Linked DNA regions of Homo sapiens: region 2 is linked to region 1. Evidence: fine-mapped expression QTL. Tissue or cell type: blood mononuclear cells. Region 1 holds a variant in brackets; the other region holds the start of a gene. All regions are shown on one strand. Distances are from middle to middle.

Evidence for each region. PIP is the estimated chance that this variant, and not a neighbour inherited with it, causes the effect.
Region 2: DEPTOR starts here. The variant in region 1 is fine-mapped to the expression of DEPTOR in blood mononuclear cells (TOPMed, PIP 0.98).

The regions. Positions count from the first base shown.
Region 1 is chr8:119,986,094-119,994,489 of GRCh38, forward strand. The region is part of intron 4 of DEPTOR (DEP domain containing MTOR interacting protein); the gene reads left to right. Among named protein-coding and RNA genes, the nearest start is that of DEPTOR, 120 kb to the left of the region's middle. The variant C/T (reference allele first, on the strand shown) is at 4,676.
Region 2 is chr8:119,869,103-119,877,102 of GRCh38, forward strand. It overlaps DEPTOR (DEP domain containing MTOR interacting protein), which reads left to right and starts at 4,620. Exons shown (of 9, transcript NM_022783.4): 1 at 4,620-4,866. The coding sequence starts at 4,745. RefSeq lists enhancers at 4,447-4,741, 4,482-4,982, 4,658-4,917, 4,983-5,483, 5,118-5,217 and 1 more and a silencer at 4,466-4,638.

The sequences.
Region 1 (8,396 bases):
TGTTAGTTGATGCAGTTTCTTCATAGTGTCAATGGTCTTTACAATTTGGTATGTGTTTGCAGTGGCTCGTACTGGTTGTTCCTTTCCATATTTAGTGCTTCCTTCAGGAGCTCTTGTAAGGCAGGCCTGGTGGTGACAAAATCTCTCAACATTTGCTTGTCTGTAAAGGATTTTATTTCTCCTTCACTTATAAGCGTAGTTTGGCCTGCATATGAAATTCTGGATTGAAAATTCTTTTCTTTAAGAATGTTGAATTTTGCCCCCACTCTCTTCTGTCTTGTAGAGTTTCTTCTGAGAGATCTGCTCTTAGTCTGATGGGCTTCCCTTTGTGGGTAACCCGACCTTTCTCTCTGGCTGCCCTTAATATTTTTTCCTTCATTTCAACCTTGGTGAATCTGATGATTATGTGTCTTGGGGTTGCTCTTCTCGAGGAGTATCTTCGTTGTGTTCTCTGTGTTTCCTGAATTTGAATGTTGGCCTGTCTTGGTAGGTTGGGGAAGTTCTCCTGGATAATATCCTGAAGAGTGATTTCTAACATGGTTCCATTCTCCCTGTCACTTTCAGGTACACCAATCAAACATAGGTTTGGTCTTTTCACATAGCCCCATATTTCTTGGAGGCTATGTTTGTTCCTTTTCATTCTTTTTTCTCTAATCTTGTCTTCATGCTTCATTTCATTAAGTTGATCTTCAATCTCTGATATCCTTTCTTCTGCTTGATCGATTCAGCTATTGATACTTGTGTATGCTTCACAAAGTTCTCATGCTGTGATTTTTCAGCTTTATCAGGTTATATATATTCTTCTCGAAACTGGTTATTCTAGTTAGCAATTCCTCTAACATTTTTTTCAAGGTTCTTAGCTTCTTTCACTGGGTCAGAACATGCTCTGTTAGCTCAGAGGAGTTTATTATTATCCATCTTCTGAAGCCTACTTCTGTCAATTTGTCAAACTCATTCTCCATCCAGTTTTGTTCCCTTGCTGGTGAGGAGTTGTGATCCTTTGGAGGAGAAGGGGCATTCTGGTTTTTGGAATTTTCAGTCTTTTTGTGCTGGTTTTTCCTCATCTTTGTGGATATATCTACCTTTGGTCTTTGATGTTGGTGACCTTCGGATAGAGTTTTGTGTGGATGTCCTTTTTGTTGACGTTGATGCTATTCCTCTCTGTTTGCTAGTTTTCCTTCTAAGTCAGACCCCTTTGCTGTAGCTCTGCTGGAGTTTGCTGGAGGTCTACTCCAGACCCTCTTTGCCTGGGTATCACCAGTGGAGGCTACAGAACAGCAAAGATTGCTGCCTGTTCTTTCCGCTAGAAGCTTTGTCCCAGAGGGGCACCTGCCAGATGCCAACCAGAGCTCTCCGGTATGAGATGTCTGTCGACCCCTGCTGGCATATGTCTCCCAGTCAGGAGGCATGGGATTCAGGGACCCACTTGAGGAGGCAGTCTATTCCTTAGCAGAGCTCGAGTGCTGTGCTGGGAGATCCAGTGCTCTCTTTAGAGCTGGCAGACAGGGAGGTTTAGGTCTGCTGAAGCGGCGCCAACAGCTGCCCCTTCCCCCAGGTGCTCTGTCCCAGGGAGAGGGGAGTTTTATCTATAAGTCCCTGACTGGGGCTGCTGCCTTTCTTCAGAGATGCCCTGCCTCTAGAGAGGCAGCCTGGCTACAATGGGTTTGCATAGCTGTGGTGGGCTCTGCCCAGTTCAAACTTGCTGGTGGCCTTGTTTACACTGTGAGGGGAAAACCACCTACTCAAGCCTCAGTAATGGCAGACACCCTTCCCCCCACCAAGCTCGAGTGTCCCAGGTCGACCTCTGACTGCTGTGCTGGCAGTGAGAATTTAAAGCCAGTAGATCTTAGCTTGCTGGGCTCCATTGGGTTGGGAACTGCTGAGCTAGACCACTTGTCTCCCTGGCTTCAGCCCCCTTTCCAGGGGAGTGAACAGTTCTGTCTCGCTGGTGTTCCAGGCACCACTGGGGTATGAAAAAAACCTCCTGCGGCTAGCTCAGTGCCTGCCCAAATGGCTGCCCAGTTTTGTGCTTGAAACCCTGGTGGTGTAGGCACCCGAGGGAATCTCCTGGTCTGCGGGTTGTGAAGACTGTGGGAAAAGCATTGTATCTGGGCTGGAATGCACTGTTCCTCATGGCAGAGTCCCTTAGGGCTTCCGTTGGCTAAGGAAGGGAGTTCCCTGACCCCTTGTGCTTCCTGGGTGAGGCAATGTCCCACTCTGCTTCTGCTCGCCCTCCATGGGCTACACCCACTATCTAACCAGTCCCAATGAGATGAACCGGGTACCTCAGTTGGAAATGCAGAAATCACCCACCTTCTGCGTTGATCTCACTGGGAGTTGCAGACCAGAGCTGTTCCTGTTCGGCCATCTTGCCCAGGTCTAAATTTTATTTTACAAATATTTTTTTGAGATGGAGTCTTGCTCTGTTGCCCAGGCTGGAGTGCAGTGGTGTGATCTTGGTTCACTGTAACCTCTGCCTCCTAGGTTCAAGTGATTCTCCTGCCTCAGCCTCCCGAGTAGCTGGGATTACAGGTGTGTACCACCATGCCTGGCTAATTTTTGTATTTTTAGTAGAGATGGGGTTTCACCATTTTGGACAGGCTGATCTTGAATTCCTGACCTCAAGCGAACTGCCCGCCTCGGGTCCCCAAAGTGCTGGGATTACAGGTGTGAACCACCGTGTCCGGCCTACTAGGCCTTTTACATATGTTGTTTCATTGTTCCTCCAATTCATTTTATAGATGAAGAAAACTAAAATTCAGAGCAGTTAAGTAATTAAGTAAATCGTTAAACTGGCATTCAACCCTGGGCTATCTGAGATCAGAGCAATGTTTTCTGTGCTATAGCCATATCCTTTTTTTTTTCTTTTTTTTTTTTTTTTTTTTTTAATAGAGATGGGGCTTTACCATGTTGCCCAGGCTAGTCTCAAACTCCTGAGCTCAAGTAATCTGCCTACCTTGGACTCCCAAAGTGCTAGGATTACATATATGAGCCATCGTGCCTGGCTGCCACATTCTTTTGGTAAGCAATTCCAAAGTAATTAGCATTTTATGGTGGTGAATATTTCTTTAAAAATTATTTTAAATAAATAGAGACAAGGTCTTACTATGTTGCTCAGGTTAGTGTCAAACTCATGGGCTCAAGTGACCCTTGTGCCTTGGCCTCCTAAAATATTAGGATTACAGGCAGGAGCCACCGTGCCGGGCCATTGGTTAAGAATTTTATGGAAAACATTTCCAGCCAAATTACCGTCTGTAACCTGGAAACAGGAATAAATGTGGGCAAAGCAGACTCCACTCTCTTGTTTTGCAAGCTTGTCTGCCTCCTCGTTTCCATGATCACACCTTGAAATGGGAGGCAGTCTAGTGTGGAGGTTCAGGGGTGAGACCTGGAGTGAGTCCGTCAGCACTTCTCTCTTGGATCTTCTTGTTAGTGACTCTGAGATACATGGGCAAGTTTGCCTTGTCTAAGCCCCAGTTTCCTTATCTGTAAACTGGGAATCATAATATGGGAATATAATATATATGGGAATATAATAACTCTCTCATAGTACTGTTTTGAGAAGTAAATGATATAAACCTGTAATGTGCTTGGCACAGGGCCGTGCACAGGCTATCTATCACTCAGTAAATGATAATTATCATTATTTTTATCATCTACATTCTCATTATCAGATGCCTGAGTGGGTGAAGCTTAATGTATTTGATGACCTCATCCATTGCTGGTCTTGAACAGTATCTTATACATACTCTCTGCTATTACGTGCTTGTTAAGTAAATCAACACTGAAATACTTTGATCGGGCCTTTGGGTTTAATTATTTTGCCAATAATTTCAAAAGATCTAGAATAGAGTTACAGATTTCTTTTGTTGAATTATGTATCTGAGATATTCCATTTGCCGGATGAAATAATTTTGTTTTTAGGCTTCTCTGCACTTACAGTACAATCTAGTTTCTGATAAACAAGATTATCTTTGAAAATCCTACCCCTTGTTCTGCATGTTATCACTAACAGTAGAGGTTCTTTCTAGTCTTTGGAATGTACCCAGCTATTATTTTTATTTGTTTATTTAGTTTTTTTTTGAGACGGAGTCTCACTCTGTCGCCCAGGCTGGAGTGCAGTGGCGCATCTCTGCTCACTGCAAGCTCCGCCTCCCAGGTTCACGCCATTCTCCTGCCTCAGCCTCCCGAGTAGCTGGGACTACAGGCGCCCACCACCATGCCCAGCTAACTTTTTGTATTTTTAGTAGAGACGGGGTTTCATCGTGTTAGTCGGGATGGTCTCAATCTCCTGACCTGGTGATCCGCCCGCCTCAGCCTCCCAAAGTGCGGGATTACAGGCGTGAGCCACCATGCCCGGCCACCCCAGCTATCGTTTAATGATACATACAGAAGAATAAAACATAGTTTGACTTTCCATCTGTTTATTGCCTTTACATTTCTGGCAGTAAGACACAGAAGCTGCAGCACTCAGACAATCACAGTGTCATGTTTGGTTTTCTATCTTTACTAAAGTTACTTTGAATCCTTTTACTTCTTTTCCATCCTCTTGCCTCCCTTCAATCAATTAAATAAGTGTAAGTGGGTTATAACTTTGTGAATGTGAAGTATTTTGTTTCAGTAATATCAGTTAATAGGACTTTATGTCCTACAATCAATTTCCTGCTTTCATATC[C/T]TCTTGTTAATGTTGTCAGTGCTAAGGAAGTAATTATTTTAGTCCTCTGACTCACTGTTGTTATTGCCTTTTGGAGAGTTTTGTATCCCAAGCAGCTAGCACCGTTTTTATGGAGTAGGCACTTAAAAACAATTGCTTACTGTTTTGAAAAGTCGATTCAAGGACTTTTGCTGCTTTAGGAAATAGGGCTCCTTCAACTATTGCTTCCATTTAGGATGGCTTGAGATGGTTGAGATGGCCTTAAGTACAGCTCGGGTTTTCTTTTCTTTCTTTCTTTCTTTCTTTCTTTCTTTCTTTCTTTCTTTCTTTCTTTCTTTCTTTTTCTTTCTTTCTTTCTTTCTTTCTTTCTTTTTTTTTTAAATCTTTTATTCTTGGTTTGGGGGTACATGCGAAGGTTTGTTATGTAAGTAAACATGTATTACGGGGGGTTATTGTACATATTATTTCATCACCCAGGATATTAAGCCCAGTGCCCAATAGTTATCTTTTCTTCTCCTCTCCTCCTCCCACCTCCACCTTACCCCTCATGTAGGCCCCAGGGCCTGGTCTTTTTTTGTTGTTTTTTGAAACAGTGTCTCGCTCTGTTTCCCAGGCTGGAGTGCAGTGGCACAATCTTGGCTCACTGCAACCTCCTCCTCCCGGGTTCAAGTGATTCTTGTGCTTCAGCCTCCCAAGCAGCTGGGATTACAGGCGTGTGCCACCACACCGGGCTAATCTTTTTTCATTTTTAATGGAGACGGGGTTTTGCTGAGTTGGCCAGGCTGGTCTCGAACTCCTGGCCTCAAGTGGTCTGCCTGCCTCAGCCTCCCAAAGTGGTGAGATTACAGGCATGAGCCACTACGCTTGGCTTGGCTATTGTTTCCTTCTTTGCATTCATAAGTTCCTAACATTTAGCTCCCATTTACAAGTGAGAACACGAGGTATTTGGTTTTCTGTTCCTGCATAAGTGTACTAAGGTTAATAGCCTCCAGTCAGATTTTCTTTAAAAAAAAATAGCTTCAACTTTTCTATTGTAACTAATTCTTAAATAAGGTTTTTCTACAAATGCATGATTAAAAAGCATGTTATGAATATTTCTTCAGTCTTGACCATTTTTAAATTATGAAATATACTAAATGATATCAGATGCTTGGACTCTGTCAGACTGTGATCTAGCAGGACCCAGAAGACAAAATACTGCAAATCTATCCCTGGATGTGTGAAAGAAGTTAAAGCTTAAGTCTTGCTGGCAGGGAAACCACAGTACTTTTGTATGCAGAATTTACTCACCTTCTAGAAACACCAAGTCTAAGGAATAGGTCTACCATCCATTTATCCTTGCAGTTTATCTGTGATTTTGAGCAATGTCTATCAGGGCTAGTCTATCAGAGATCAGTAGTAGCTAAGAAAATAAGAGGAAAAGGAGTGAATGGTTGGATAGAGTGCCATCCTTGGTGACCAAAAAAATGATCCTTCACAGAAGCCCCAGCCACCCTTGTGCACTTGGTGAAGCAGTGAGCTGGCAGCTAGTGAGGGTCTTATGTCTTTAAGGTGATCTTGATGACCTCTGTAACTTTGACACTGGTTTGCAGTTAGCCCCATCTTGCTGACCTTCTTCTTCCTCAGTAGGATAATCATCATCTTTATTCCCTCTCTGTTTAAGTCTGTTTTCAGTCTACTAAGTTGTTTACGTGACCGTAAGTCCAAGACCACCTTTTAAAAATTTTTGATGATGTGTCATCCAGGGCACAGTTGATGTCTGCGCATTCCCTATATGGTGCTATCGTAGTGCTGGATTCAGTTCACATGCTTCATGATGCCTGTTGTGTTATATCATTTATGAGCAAGCATTTCAAGGATGAATGAAAGTATGTGACCTTCCTCCTTCCAACTAGATAAGTAGAGTAAATTTTTTTTTTTTTTTTTTTGAGACAGAGTCTTACTCTATGCCCAGGCTGGAGTGCAGTGGCATGATCTTGGCTCACTACAACCTCTGCTTCCTGGGTTCAAGTGATTCTCGTGCCTCAGTCTCCCAAGTAGCTGGAATTACAGGTGCGCACCACCATGCCTGGCTAATTTTTATGTTTTTACCTGAGACAGGGTTTCACCATGTTGGCCAGGCTAGTTTCGAACTCCTGACCCCAGGTGACCCACCTGCCTCGGCCTCCCAAAGTGCTGAGATTACAGGTGTGAGCCACTGCGCCCAACGAAAATAGTTTTATATTCAGGAGAACCTGTAGAATTCAAGATGATACATTTTTATATTCATCCTTGGACTACATGCATGAGTTGAATGGGAGCCAATTTCCCCCCTTTTAAGTAATCAGCTTCTATTATTTCTTTGTCTGCTAAAATCATCCTAATAATATATAAGGGAGGAAAATGTAGTCACGTTATCCCCAGAAAGAAGAATATATCTGTACCATGTCACTTTATTATTTTGGTAAACTACATGACATTTCCCTCATGATTTCTGCAGTTAAACCTAACGGTGTATAGGGATCTGTTTTTCTTTGACCAAATAGTGAATTGAGTGCTTCTAAAGTTCCAACTTTCCTAAACAGAGATCCTGTTGTATTTATGTGGCTCTAGCTTTCTGGCTACATCTGCTTTTCTTCCTAGTTTAAATCCCATTTAATACGAAGTCAAGACAAGGCCCTAGAGAATTCTACCAAAGCAAAAGGGAAGGCTTGGAAAGTCCCAGAAATTATCAATTGGATGAGTAACAAATTGTCAGTTTTCAATTACAACTGGTAAGATCACAACTGGAACATTAGATATTGAATGTAGATGTTGAACACTGCCTCTTTGAATCTTTGTCCTGTTTACAGATAAATAGTTCCAAGGAGCAAAAAATGAAATTTATCAAATGGTATGTATTATATTTACTATAATACGAAGGTCCTGTATATCACTGGGATCTGAGAAATGTAGAATTGGAACAAATTTAAGACTTACAGGCACAAACTGTTCCCCATGCTTTTTTCTTCCTTCTCTTTACTTTTTTTTCCATATCATGGATTTTTTTTTTTCTGTGTTTAACAAAAAGTAAGTTGTTTATGTAGCAAGGATTTTTATATTCAGTATGGAGTATTGCATGTTAATGTGTAGGAAAAAATCAGGCTGAGGCCGGGTGCGGTGGCTCACACCTGTAATCCTAGCACTTTGGGAGACTGAGGCAGGTAGATTACCTGAGGTCAGGAGTTTGAGATCAGCCTGGCTAACACGGTGAAAACCCATCTCTACTAAAAATACAAAATTAGTGGGGTGTGGTGGCAGGTGCCTGTAATCCCAGCTACTCGGGAGGCTGACGCAGGAGGTGGAGGTTGCAGTAATCTGAGATCGCACCATTGCACTCCAGCCTGGGCAACGGAGCAAAAACTCCATCTCGAAAAAAAAAAGAAAAAGAAAAAAAAAATCAGGCTGAGCGTGTTGGCTCATGCCTGTAATCCCAGCTACTTGGGAGGCAGAGGCAGGGCAATCGCTTGAACCCTGGAGGCGTAAGTTGCAGTGAGCCAAAATCGCACCACTCTGGATGACAGAGCAAGACTGTCCCAAAAAGGTGTACAAAAAAAATCAACTTTTCTCCCTCTGGAATACAAACTCTATGTCATTTAGCTGTTGTTAATTCTTGAGCCTCTACTTATATAATTTATGACTATAAAAACGATCTTTGACTTTCATAATCTAGTTACTTCCCAAACCTTACTGTGTCTTAATACACTGCTTTATTTTTTGCTTT
Region 2 (8,000 bases), 120 kb before region 1:
TGTGGTTTTGATTTGCATTTGTCTAATGACCAGCGATGATGAGCTTTTCCTCATATGTCTGTTGGCTGCATACTACCATTTGACCCAGCAATCCCATTACTGGGTATATACCCAAAGGATTATAAATCATTCCACTATAAAGACACATGCGCACGTATGTTTATTGCAGCACTATTCACGATAGCAAAGCCTTGGAACCAACCCAAATGCCCATCAATGATAGACTGGATAAAGAAAATGTGGCACATATACACTACAGAACACTATGCAGCCATAAAAAAGGATGAGTTCTTGTCCTTTGCAGGGACATGGATGAAGCTGGAAACCATCATTTTCAGCAAACTAACACAGGAACAGAAAACCAAACACCACATGTTCTCACTCATAAGAGGGAGTTGAACAATGAAAACGCATGGACCCGGGAAGGGGAACATCAAACACCAGGGCCTGTCAGTGGGTGGGGGGCTGGGGAGGAATAGCATTAGGAGAAATACCTAATGTAGATGACCAGTTAATGGGTGCAGTGAACCACCATGGCACATGTATACCTATGTGACAAACCTGCACGTTCTGCACGTGTATTCCAGAACTTAAAGTATAATTAAAAACAAACAAACAAACAGCAACAACAAAAAACCTCTGGTCTCCAGCACAGCCGACTCTGCGTGAATTACTCTTTCTCTATTGCAATTCCCCTGTCTTGATGAATCGGCTCTTTCTAGGCAGTGGGCAAGGTGAACCCCTTGGGCGATAAATAGCAATAAACTGCTTGGAGAAGTGCAGGAAAATAGCCCAGAGAAGGTGGCATTTCAGTTAGCCTTTAAAATCAGGCAGGATGGCCCGGCACAGTGGCTCATGCCTATAATCCTAGCACTTTGGGAGGCTGGTGGGAAGGTCACCTGAGGTCAGGAGTTCAAGACCAGCCTGACCAACATGGTGAGATCCCTGTCTCTACTAAAAATACAAAAAAATTAGCCAGGCCTGGTGGCACATGCCTGTAATCCCAGCCACCCAGAAGGCTGAGGCAGGAGAATTGCTGGAACCCGGGAGGCAGAAGCTGCAGTGAGCCAAGATCATGCCACTGCACTCCAGCCTGGCTGATAGAGGAGACTCTGTCTCAAAAAATAATTAATTAATTAATTAATTAAAATCAGGCAAGAATAATACCAATGCATATTAAAAGGCAACAATAATCATGACAGCTAACATATTAATCTTCATAGCTGACAGTATTCTTTCATGCATTTTATCAATTCAAGTTCATCTCCTTTTTATATTGCTGCTGACCTTTAGGAAGTGTTTATCACACCAGTGCTACTCCAAGTGTGGTTTGCTAACTGGGCACGATCTTGGCTCACTGCAGCCTCCGCCTCCCAGGTTCAAGCAATTCTCCCACCTCAGCCTCCCAAGTAGCTGGGATTACAGGCACCTGCCAACACACCCGGCTAATTTTTGTATTTTTAGTAGAGACAGGGTTTCGCCATGTTGGCCAGGCTGGTCTTCAACTCCTGGCCTCAAGTGATCCACCCACCTCACCCTCCAAAAGTTCTGGGATGATAGACGTGAGCCACTGCACCTGGCTTCATTTGTATTATTGTATTTCATCAAAGTATCAGGCTTCAATGGGTTGAAAGCATACACACACACACACAGGTGGATCTTCCCCGCCAAACCTTTGAGAAGCACTGGCCCCAAAGCACCAAAACAGACAGAAGGCATGAAAGAGGTAAGTGTGGAGAGCTAGAAGAGAAAAGTGTGGAGAGCTAGAAGAGAAAGCTCACACTTAATAGTTCCCACCTGTAATAAGTGCTTTCAGTAAATTTTATTTAATCCTCCCAATAACCCAATGAGATTGGTGTTATTATCTAAATTTTACAAAAGAGGGACAGCAAATTCAGAGACGATAAGGAGCTTGCCCAAACATGGCCAAGAATCAAACCAAGGTTTGTCAGAATTCTGTTTTTCTGAAATATTTATGCTGAATTAGTTGCCATATGAGTGCCCTTTTCTCCTTGATCAATATCTAAAAAATTACAGTTTATCTGGAACCAGTTGCTCCTGGGCTCACAGTCATGGACATGTCCTCAGGATGTGGCTCACCAATTTTTCCCTAAGTTAGGAAAAAGGATCTGTCTTCTTACCCAGTGGAGCATGGTGTGTGTCATATGTCAAAAGGTTAAAACAATAACAGCAAACCAGTTCCCATTTCCTGTTCAAATATACCTACCTATACACACACCGCCCCCTACACACACCTCTTATCAGGCAAGAAAAATAAATCATGCTCTCTCACTGTCACTGGAACAATAGCATCAGGTATTTTCCTAACTCGAATTTTCTTTTCTTTTCTTTATGTTAAGGTGCTTTTTTATCTTAAAGTTACAAATTTGTGTTACTGACATGGATCTTGGAAACTTTACATAATAGAAATTTTAATGTTATTTATTTTTTCTTTTTTTTAAGTGTCAGGGTCTTGCTCTGATACACACACTGGAGTGCGGTGGTGCAATCATAGCTCACTGTAACCTTGAATTCCTGGGCTCAAGTGATCCTTCCACCTCAGCCTCTCAAGTAGCTGAGACTACAGGTATGCACAACCATACCTGGGTAATTAATTTTGTTTTTTTTTTGTAGAGACAGGGTCTTGCTATGTTGCCCAGGCTGGCATTGAACTCTTGGCCTCAAGCAGTCCTCCCACCCTAACTTCCCAAAGAACTGGGATTACATTATTTCATTTAAGCCACGCAACATCCCTATGAAGTAGAAATTATTATTCCTGTTTTATCGATAGGAAAGGGAGGCCAAGAGAAATAACTAGCATAAGGTTGCAAAATTAGCAAACGACAGAATTGAGATAGAAATTGCATGTTTGACTGAGAAGCCCGTGCAAACTCTTGATATTCTATTTAGTAGTTATAAGATTAAAACATGAGCAACAGACACCTTTTAATCTCATTAACTCTGGGACTTCTGTTGAATGATTTATGTATTTTATGCAGAATAAGGCTCTTAGAATCACAGTCACCTAGAACTATGTCTGCCTTGGTCTACATGTCTATTGTGGCCTATTTAAAAAATTAAGAAACTTAAATAATTTCTTTTGGCAAAAGAGTCACCTAACATCTGTCTCATGCAGATTCAGAGCTGGTCTGCTCCCGGATGTTCAAGGGAGTTGGGCAACTATTCTCTTTCTGGAGTGGGGCTGAGTATGGCCAGGGTTTAAGGGCTACCTAACTTTCTAGGCAGATTACTTCATCTTTCTATACTTAAGCTTTCTCATTTGTAAGTTGAAAATAATACCAAACTCCAGGGTTTTGTGAGGATAAAGTGTTTGGCACAATGTAAAGCACAGAATAAATGCTCAACACACATGAATACTGCCATAAACATTACTTCGCCTTCCTGCAGACCAACTCCGACTCTGCATGAAACAGAAAATCAGAACATTTATTTGGTACTAATCAAATTTCTTTTCATAATCTTTTACGGATAGACAATACCATTGTATCCCCATTTTAAGAGGCAGTCTTTCAGTCTTTTCAAAGCATAACTTTGAAGCCAGAATTGCCTCGGTTAGATTTCTTCTTATTATTATTATGATGATTTGAGACGGAGTCTCGCTCTTGTTGCCCAGGCTGGAATGCAATGGCACTAACTCCGCTCACCCGAACTCGGCTTACAGCAACCTCCGCCTCCCGGGTTCGAGCGATTCTCCTGCCTCAGCCTCCGAAGTAGCTAGGATTACAGGCATGCACCACCACGCCCGGCTAATTTTGTATTTTTAGTAGAGACGGGGTTTCTTCATGTTGGTCAGGCTGGTCTGGAACTCCTGACCTCAGGTGATCTGCCCGCCTCGGCCTCCCAAAGTGCTGGGATTACAGGCATGAGCCACGGTGCCCGGCTCTTCTTATACTTATTATTTGCTTGCCTTAGACAAGTAACTTCACCTCTCCAAGCCTGCATTCTAATGCAAAACGAACACCAATACCTATTTTATGAATTATTGTAATAATTAAACGAGGTAATACCATACCTGAAGTATCTTTAATGCAGCAGATGTCAAAAGTGGTAGCCGCAATTATTTTTATTTTGTAAGGGAGGATTAAACACATTTAAATAGGACATCACAGGAGCGGAGCTGGATCCCAGGTCAGCCTGATTCCTAGGCCGGCGTTCCTTATTGATTACAACATAAGGCAAACAAGTCGTCTTTGGAGAGAGAGGTTGGGGAGAGAAGAATGTTTAATTTCTCCATGCCCTTCAATGACATGTATAACCTTCACTGTTGACCATTTGGCCAGATTGTTGAATTATGTTTTGCTCTCTGGCAACTTGGGGTGTGGAACGTACAATAAAAACGCCTTCACACTAATAACCTCCAGGCCTGTCCCCAGGATTCTACAGCATGAGCTTTGTGGGTAAAGAGAGCTCACCAAATTCAGCCTCCAGCAGCACACACAGCTCAGTAGCAGCGCCCCGCCCAGATGTTTATATTTTCCTCCATCGGCCCCGCCCCCCGACCATGAGGGGCTCTAGCCACGCCCCCAAGCTCAAGTTTCTGGGGCCGGACTAGCCCAGCGCGTCTGCCTACCCATAGGGATTCCCTCTCCAGCCAATCCAGTCAGAGCAGCGGAGCTGCCCCGAACAAAGATGGCGCGGGAAGCGTCTGTGAGGGCAGACTGATCCGAGCACCCAAACCCTCGGCGGACAGCGGAGCCAGTGGTAGCCGCACGGCCCTAAAACCATGGAGGAGGGCGGCAGCACTGGCAGTGCTGGCAGTGACAGCAGCACCAGCGGGAGTGGCGGGGCGCAGCAAAGGGAGCTGGAGCGCATGGCTGAGGTCTTGGTCACCGGGGAACAGCTACGGTAAGGCAAGAGACACAGCGGGTGAGCTCACGATGGCACTGCCAACGCGTGCCCGCTGCAGTCCTGCGCGCACGCGCTCCCTGGCTCGTGGCTTGCGACTCGCGTGGGGCGCCGGAACGGCTGCGGGCGCGTGGATGGTCCTCGGTGCGCCCGCGCTTAGCTGCTGCAGCCTCGGTCCCTGAGGACTCGCTCGCCAAGCGGGGCTGCCTGGCAGAAGCCGACGAGCGGGTGGTGCGCGCTGCGCCCTAGCCTGGCTGCTGCAGTCCTGTGCCGGGCAAAGTCCCTGCCACCCACCGCGCTGTCCGTCTTCCCGTGTACCTGGACGCCGCCAGGCCTCCCGGCTGACAGCCTGCGCCTCATCCGCGAAGAGAGCAAGAGGGGTCGCTGTGGGGTCCCGAGGCGACCCCAGCCCCTCTACTCCTTGATAAAAGGAGCAAGACCAACGATAGTCTTCACTAGGTTTTCCTTTTTGCTGACAAGTCTTCCTTCACTCCCCTGAGCCTCGGTGTTTTACATCTGTAAAACAGGGCTGATTCAAGGGCTTTTTGTGAGGTTAAACTGAGAGAGCATTTCTGAAACCCTGCACCTATCAGTTAATTGGCACATCGTCCTCAATCATTTGGGTCCGCAAGGGGGCGTGGAGGCACCTTGTCGGGCTGCCTTGAGGCTGTGCCAACTCCCCGGGCTCGCACGTTTTGGGCAGCAGGATCCATGGGGACCCTGGCTCCTGCAAGAATTAAGACTTGCGGCGTCTCACGGAACTTGGGAACAAGGACGACCCCCAGAATCCCCCTTGCCATTCCCATCCCTGTATGGTCCTTCCTCTAGGGCTGTTTGGGAATAGTACTTATGGTCTAACTGGTTCTGCAGCTGCCCTTCGTGTGGTTATAAATCAGTTTGCCAGGAAAAAGAAAACCCAGCTCTGCAGCGTTTGAGCCACAACTTGTACGCGGGCCCCTGTTACTTCTAGTTCTTAGCCTGAATTCCCCAGCTTGTTTTGGTTTCTAAATGTCTGTGTTTCAGGACCTGAAAGAGTGTCTTGCAAAGGTCTCTGAAGGAGACCAATATTGGAAGTCAGAATTAACTGATTTTTAATGTTACAAAAGGCAAATTGCACCTATCGATTCTTTGTTGATTTTTAAAAATACGTGGTCAGAATTAAAGGGAATAAAAACTTTTTTTCCTTCATCAAAAGTACTTTCTAATGAAACCTGTCACGCGGTGCCCGTGTGAAGAGACCACCGAACAAGTTTTGTGTGAGCAATAAAGCTTTTTAATCACCTGGGTGCAGGTGGACTGAGTCTAAAAACGGAGTCAGCAAAGGGAGATGGGGAAGGGGTTGTTTTATAGGAGTTGGGTAGATGATGGATAGTGGTGTAAGTTTGTGAGGTGCAGTCCAAGAAGGCGGGGGTGACTTCATAAAGCCCTGTTGTAAAGAGTAGAGTAAGGAAGAAGAGACCTGATATCCCTTGGAGAATAAATGTTGAAGGAGCAGGAGGGTGTCTTGCTGAGAAGATTCAAAGGAGAGGCTACAAAGTAGAAGGTCATCAATATATTGAATAAGGTGAGAAGCAGAGGGGTAGAAAGAAAGTAAATCATGAGAAAGGGCTTGGCTGAAGTAATGAGGGCTGTTCCTGAAGACTTGCGGCAGTACAGCCCAGGTAAGCTGCTGGGACTGATGGGTGTCAGGGTCAGTCCAGGTAAAAGCAAAGAGAGGCTGGGACGAGGGGTGCAGGGGAATAGTGAAAAAGGCATCTTTAAGATCAAGAATGGAATAGTGAGTTGTGGAGGAAGGTATTGAGGACAAAAGAGTGTACAGGTTTGGCACCACAGGGTGGATAGGCAAAACAATTTGGTTGATAAGGTGCAGAACCTGAACTAACCTGTAAGACTTGTCCAGTTTTGGGACAGGTAAAATGGGGGAATTGTAAGGAGAGTTTGTAGGCTTTAGAAGCCCAAGCTGTAGCAGGCGAGTGATAACAGGCTTCAGTCCCTTTAAAGCCTACTGTGGGAAAGAAAGTTTAATTTCTCTGCTCTTCATTACTGGGCCATCTTTTTAAAAGTCTTCTGTTGGATAGGGTTACTTATTTTTCATTTATTTTACAAATATTAAATTGCATGATGGCTCTTTTTGTCCAGCAAGTACTTTTTCCTTCAAGATGCAGTTTAAATGCCTCTTCCTTGCAGTCCCCAGAGCACTTGTTATTCCCCACTTTTCTAGCGCCTCTCTGCACTGCAGCAGTTTTGAGAGCCATCCTTGTCATGCAGGAATTAGACCTGGGTTTGAATGACTGCTCCACCATTATGTAGGCAAGTGTCAGCATTAAGTTGTTTCAAGGAAGACTTTAAGCTAGACTGAATCTTGGCTTTGCTACTTACTAGTGTGGGACCTTGGACAAGTGATTATGCCCGTAATCCTGGCCCTTTGGGAGACCAAGGCAGGCGGATCCCTTGAGGTCTGGAGTTCAAGACCAGCCTGACCAACATGGTGAAACCTCATCTCTACTAAAAATACAAGAATTAGCCGGGTGTGGTGGTGCATGCTTGTAATCCTAGCTACTTGGGAGGCTGAGGTGAGAGGATTGCTTGAACCTGGGAGGCAGAGGTTGCAGTGAGCCAAGACAGTGCCACTGCACTCCAGCCTGGGCAACAGAGTGAGCCTCCATCTCAAAAAAAAAAAAAGAAGAAGAAGGATGGGTAATAATGGAATTTACCTCATAGTGTTACTATGAGGATTAGATGAGTTGCGCTTAGGGTAGTTTCTGATAGATATGTAGTAAGCACCAGGTCAACATTAGCTAAGGTAGAGTTCTGTGACCTTGGACAAGTAAATTCACTTCTCTGAGTCTCTGTTTCCACATTTGAAAAAGACAATGAAGATGAATGTATTTCATGGAGTTGCGAGAATTTGCCCCTGGGCTTCATGTATTAATGAGCATTCAACAAATAGTTCCTGGAATTAATTAGTATTATTGGTCTCTCTGCATCACTGCATGTGACTTCCAGCCAAGCAAGATTGGGCAGGAAGGATTGGGTGGTGGTGAAGAGCGCAGGATATAGAACTAGGCTGCCTGGGTTCTTATTCTGCCTCCACCATTTATTCTGTAACTTTAGGACAATATGTTTAGCCTCTC